Linked DNA regions of Homo sapiens: region 2 is linked to region 1. The links come from fine-mapping of genetic effects on gene expression. A gene starts in region 1. The other region holds a variant in brackets. All regions are shown on one strand. Distances are from middle to middle. Region 1 holds the start of CDC25C (cell division cycle 25C). Region 2 overlaps BRD8 (bromodomain containing 8).

Region 1 (2,913 bases):
AAACCTTGAGAAGCACAGATATGATGGACCCTCCTGCCCCCATCACTCAACAGTCAGGGTCAATCTTGTATCATCAATACCTTCCCCCAGCACAGGATTATTTAAAAGCAAATCCCTAACATTAGGAATGTCTTTTTGTTTGTTTCACTCTAATGCCCAGGCTGGAGTGCAGTGGCGCAACCTCTGTCTCCCGAGTTCAAGCAGTTCTCATGCCTCAGCCTCCCAAGTAGCTGGGATTACAGGTGTGTGCCACCACAACCGGCTAAATTTTGTATTTTTAGTAGAGACGGGGTTTCATCATGTTGGCCAGGCTGGTTTTGAACCCCTGACCTCATGTAATCTGCCCGCCTCGGCCTCCCAAAGTGCTGGGATTACAGGTGTGGGCCAACGCGTCCGGCCAATAATTTATAAATATCACCTCGTCAATGTTCAAATTTTCATTAATAACCAATCTTTGAGGTCCTCTGGATTGCGATAAGGATTATACCAAGATGATTTAATTCCTCCACTTTCCCTGCAACGGAATTTCTTTTTACCCACGTGAGCTAGAGTCTCTGAGATGCTGCACACTAAAAGAAACACCAAACAAAGCTCTTGGAAGGGGCTAATGCCTCTCAGCATAAACACACACACCCGTCTCGCCCCAACACTTGCCACGCCGGCAGCAAACGCTCCATCTCCCGTGGAAGGCCAGCAAAACTTAGAAGAAAACGTCCGCGAAAACGGCACGAGAAAGAAGCGAAGAAAATGAAACGCTTACAACACCCTCCACCCAAAATAATCTCTCCTAGTATTACCCTAGTGAATGGACATCACTAGTAAGGCGCGGTTTAAATCTCCCGGGGTTCGTGGGGCTGAGGGAACGAGGAAAACAGAAAGGGTGTGGAGATTGGTGAGAGGGAGAGCCAATGATGCGCCAGGCTCCCCGTGAGGCGGAGCTTACCCCGCAGCCTGCCTAACGCTGGTGGGCCAAACACTATCCTGCTCTGGCTATGGGGCGGGGCAAGTCTTACCATTTCCAGAGCAAGCACACGCCCCCAGGTGATCTGCGAGCCCAACGATAGGCCATGAGGCCCTGGGCGCGCGCGCGGAGATTGGCTGACGCAGCTTAGAGGCGAGCGGGGATAGGTTACTGGGCTGGCGGAAGGTTTGAATGGTCAACGCCTGCGGCTGTTGATATTCTTGCTCAGAGGCCGTAACTTTGGCCTTCTGCTCAGGGAAGACTCTGAGTCCGACGTTGGCCTACCCAGTCGGAAGGCAGAGCTGCAATCTAGTTAACTACCTCCTTTCCCCTAGATTTCCTTTCATTCTGCTCAAGTCTTCGCCTGTGTCCGATCCCTATCTACTTTCTCTCCTCTTGTAGGCAAGCCTCAGACTCCAGGCTTGAGGTAAGTCCGCAGCCGTCTCCGCCACGGAATCACGGAGACCCCATTGTCCCCCTTAGGGTCCAGTCGGGCCCCCACAGACAGAGGTTGGGAGGGCCGAATGGGGACTATCGCGAGTTACGAGACCCGGGTTCTTTCTAGTCAGGAGTCTCGAGCTGTGTGGCGTGGAACAAGTCAAAATCCTCTCTTCATTCCATCTTTAAGGTCCTAAGGTTGCCTCTCGTCGGTGAATTCAGGTTCTAACCTTAAGCCAGGCTGTGAATCACCCTTCGGGGTTGCCCCTCTTCCAGTGTTGATTCGCCTGGCTGGAAAGGGTGGAGGAGTTTAGGAAAGCTGAGGGAACTGTGATGTACCGATTTAGATGACGTTTTCCTCCTAGCTAGGTTTTGTTTTTCTCCTGGTGAGAATTCGAAGACCATGTCTACGGAACTCTTCTCATCCACAAGAGAGGAAGGAAGCTCTGGCTCAGGACCCAGTTTTAGGTCTAATCAAAGGAAAATGTTAAACCTGCTCCTGGAGAGAGACACTTCCTTTACCGTCTGTCCAGATGTCCCTAGAACTCCAGTGGGCAAATTTCTTGGTGATTCTGCAAACCTAAGCATTTTGTCTGGGTAAATATACTTTTATTTTTACACTGTATTGCCTTTGCTATTTCCAAACAGTTGGGTTTGTTTGTTGGTTTGTTTTCAATTATCCCGGCTCAAAGGTCAGGCTTTAAGTCTCAACTCTGCCCTTGACTGTGTAACCCTTTTGAGTCTCACCTTCTTTTCTGTGACAAGAAATAATCTCAGCCAGGCGAGGTGGCTCATGCCTGTAATCTCCGCACTTTGGGAGGCCAAGGAGGGCGGATCGCCTGAGTCTAGGAGTTCAAGACCAGCCTGGGCAACATGGCAAGACGCCGTCTCTACAAAAAATATTAAAAGTTAGCTGAGTGTGGTGGTGTGCACCTATAGTCCCAGCAACTCGGGAGGCTGAGGTGGGAGGATTGCTTGAGCCCGGGAGGTGGAGGCTGCAGTTAGCCAAGATCGCCTCACTGCACTTCAGCCTGGGAAACAGAGTGAGACTCTATCTCAAAAAGAAAAGAAAAGACAAAGAAATAATAATCGCTTCCTATCTTACTAGGATCTTGTGAGAATCAAATGATGTGATAACTGGGAAAAGTCTTTGAAAACCGCTGCATTACGAGTCGGTCACTTTATTAGTATTAATATTAGTGTTATTGCAGTTGTACTTTGAATTCTGATCATACCATGTCTCAACTAGCAAAGAGAAGTAGTACCTGAGAAAAACTAGGGACCCCAGGGAGAAATCAAGCCTGTGTTCATAGTGCTCAGGACCGGGAATGTGGAGTCAAGATCCCCCTCGGCCAATAAACTCTGGGCCTCATTTAAAAAAAAAAAAATTATCTGTTTCAGTATGTTGGTAAGGAGAAAATAAAGTACAGATTATGGTAGTGGGAGATTTTTCTCAGCCCAGTCTGATATATTTCCCAAAAGCAATTAGATTTATTTGGACACTGTTCAGATGA
Region 2 (2,913 bases), 190 kb after region 1:
ATTGTAGTATTGTGTCCGGAATTGGTTCCTTCCGGTGGGTTCTTGGTCTCGCTGACTTCAGGAATGAAGCTGCAGACTCTCGTGGTGTTACAGTTCTTAAAGATGGTGTGTCCAGAGTTTGTTCCTTCGGATGTTCAGATGTGTCCGGAGTTTCTTCCTCCCGGTGGGTTTGTGGTCTCGCTGAGTTCAGGAGTGAAGCTGCAGACCTTCACAGCGAGTGTTACAGCTCTTAAAGGTGGCGCCTCTGGAGTTGTTCGTTCCTCCCAGTGGGTTGGTGGTCTCGCTGGCTTCAGGAGTGAAGCTGCAGACCTTGGCGGTGAGTGTTACAGCTCTTAAAGGTGGTACATCCGGAGTTGTTTATTCCTCTTGTTGGGTTCGTGGTCTTGCTGGCTTCAGGAGCGAAGCGGCTGACCTTCACGGTGAGTGTTACAGTTCATAAAGGTAGTGCGGACCCAAAGAGTGAGGAGCAGCAAGATTTATTGCGGAGTGAAAGAACAAAGCCTCCACAGTGTGGAAGGGGACTCCAGCGGGTTGCCACTGCTGCCTTGAGGGGCCAGCTTTTATTCCCTTATTTGGCCTCCTCCACATCCTGCTGATTTGTCCATTTTACATAGTACTGATTGGTCCATTTTACAGAGTGCTGATTGGTCCATTTTTATAGAGTGCTGATTGGTGCGTTTACAAACCTTTTTTGGTGCGTTTTTACAGAGTGCTGATTGGTGCATTTACAAAGCTTTAGCTAGACACAGAGCGCTGATTGGTGCATTTACAAATGTTTAGCTAGACACAGAGCGCTGATTGGTGCGTTTTTACAGAGTGCTGATTGGTGTGTTTACAAACCTTTAGCTAGATACAGAGCACTGATTGGTGTGTTTACAATCCTTTAGCTAGACAGAAAAGTTCTCCAAGTCCCACCCAACCCAGAAGCCCAGCCAGCTTCACCTCTCAGTATTTTGGGATTTTATTTTTATTTTTTATTTAAAAAAATTTTTTTGAGACAGGGTCTCACTCTGTTGCTGGAGTGCAGTGGTGCAATCATGGTTCACTGCAGCCTTGACCTCCTGGGCTCAAGCAATCTTCCCACTTCAGCCTCCGGAGTAGCTGGGACTACAGGCATGTGCCACTGCACTTAGCTAATTTTTAAATTTATTATTTTTTAAATTTTTACTTACTATTATTTTTTGAGACAGGTCTCACTCTGTTGCTCAGGCTGGAGTGCAGTGGCACATTTCTTGGATAACTGAGCCTCAACTGCCCAGGTTCAAGCAATCCTTCCACCTCAGCCTCCCTAATAACTGGGTCTAGAGGTGTGTGCCACCATGCCCGGCTAATTTTTGTATTTTTTATAGAGATAGAGTTTCACCATGGTGCCCAGGCTTGTCTCAGACTCCTGGGCTCATGCAGTTCACCCACCTCAGCCTCCCAAAGTGCTGGGATTACAGGTGTGAGCC[A/T]CTGTGCCTGGCCTGATATTTTTATTATAATAAAATATTTTCTTTGTTTGAAATGTTATTAATAACTTTATTTTTCTTCAGAATATCACTGAGGAGGAATTTTTAAATTTTTTGTAGATATGGGGTCTCACTAGATTGCCCAGGTTGGTCTTAAGCTCGTAGTCTCAAGCAATCCTCCCACCTCAGCCTTCCAAAATGCTGGGATTACAGGCAGGTAATCCTAGCCTATTTTGGATTTTTTTTTTTTTTTTTTTTTGAGACAGTCTTGCTCTGTCACCAGGCTGGAGTGCAGTGATGAGATCTCGGCTCACTGCAACCTCCGCCTCCCGGGTTCAAGTGATTCTCCTGCCTCAGCCTCCTGAGTAGCTGGAACCACAGGCACACGTCACCACGCCCAGCTAATTTTTGTATTTTTAGTAGAGACAGGGTTTCACTATGTTGGCCAGGATGGTCTCAATCTCTTGACCTCGTGATCCGCCTGCCTCGGCCTCCCAAAGTGCTGGGATTACAGGCTTGAACCACTGTGCTCGGCCTATTTTGGGTTTTTATAGCATAGGTCATCTAAAATGCTGTCATAAACCTGTATGGTAATAGAATGTAAAAGATCATGATAGGACCTTTGGAGAGTCACTAGTCTGTGCTGCTATAGCACAATACCACAGGCTGGATAATTTATAAATAATAGAAATCTATGTTTCTTTGTTTTGGTTCTGGAGGCTGGGAAGTGCAAGATCAAGGCATTGGTAGTTTTGGTGTGTGAGGTGGGTTACTCTCTGCTTCTGCTTCTAAGATGATGCCTTGTTGTTGTATTCTGCAGAGGGGACGAATGCTGTATCCTCACATGGCAGAAGGGACAGAAGGATAAGAGGGCACTCTCTTCGATATGGAGCCCTTTTATAAGGATGCTAATCCCATTCATGAAGGCAGAGCACTCATGAATTAATTACCTCCCAAAGGCTCCACCTCTTAATACTGTTGCACTTGGGATTAAGTTTCAACATGAATTTTGGAGGGGATACCATCATTCAAACAGCAGAGACAATGATACCATCATTCAAACAGCAGAGACAAACTTCTTTAGGAATGAGGAAACTAAAGCTCAGAGGTGCTTGGTCATGACTTGCTCGTGATCAACCAACAGTTAATAGCAGAGCTAGAACTAAGCCCCAGATTCTTACCTGCAGTTCAGTCTTCTTTCTACACTGCTGTGCCTTCTCTTATATATCTACTTTCTGTGTCTCATTAATATTGTCTTAATATTCACTTGATCCTTTTTTCATCTCCATGAAAGGAGAAAAAAATTATTCTTAGCTTTTTATTTGTGCAGTAAGAGAAGTAGATGAAATAATATATGACTATACATTGTAAACAGCAAATAACTACTGTGTGATAAACTGATGATTGGTGCTCTTTACAACTTTGATACCTGGGGCCAGCACTCCTCCTCTGATAGTAGAATATA

What was found. PIP is the estimated chance that this variant, and not a neighbour inherited with it, causes the effect.
Region 2: its variant is fine-mapped to the expression of CDC25C in nasal epithelium (TOPMed, PIP 0.94).

Annotation. Positions count from the first base shown.
Region 1 is chr5:138,330,070-138,332,982 of GRCh38, reverse strand. It overlaps CDC25C (cell division cycle 25C), which reads left to right and starts at 1,179. Exons shown (of 14, transcript NM_001790.5): 1 at 1,179-1,388; 2 at 1,765-1,996. The coding sequence starts at 1,803. LOC100128966 (a long non-coding RNA gene) reads right to left here and starts at 878. Exons shown (of 4, transcript NR_146628.1): 1 at 798-878. RefSeq lists a silencer at 857-1,116 and enhancers at 1,167-1,216, 1,227-1,356, 1,068-2,021.
Region 2 is chr5:138,141,554-138,144,466 of GRCh38, reverse strand. The region is part of intron 25 of BRD8 (bromodomain containing 8); the gene reads left to right. Among named protein-coding and RNA genes, the nearest start is that of NME5, 3.6 kb to the right of the region's middle. The variant A/T (reference allele first, on the strand shown) is at 1,452.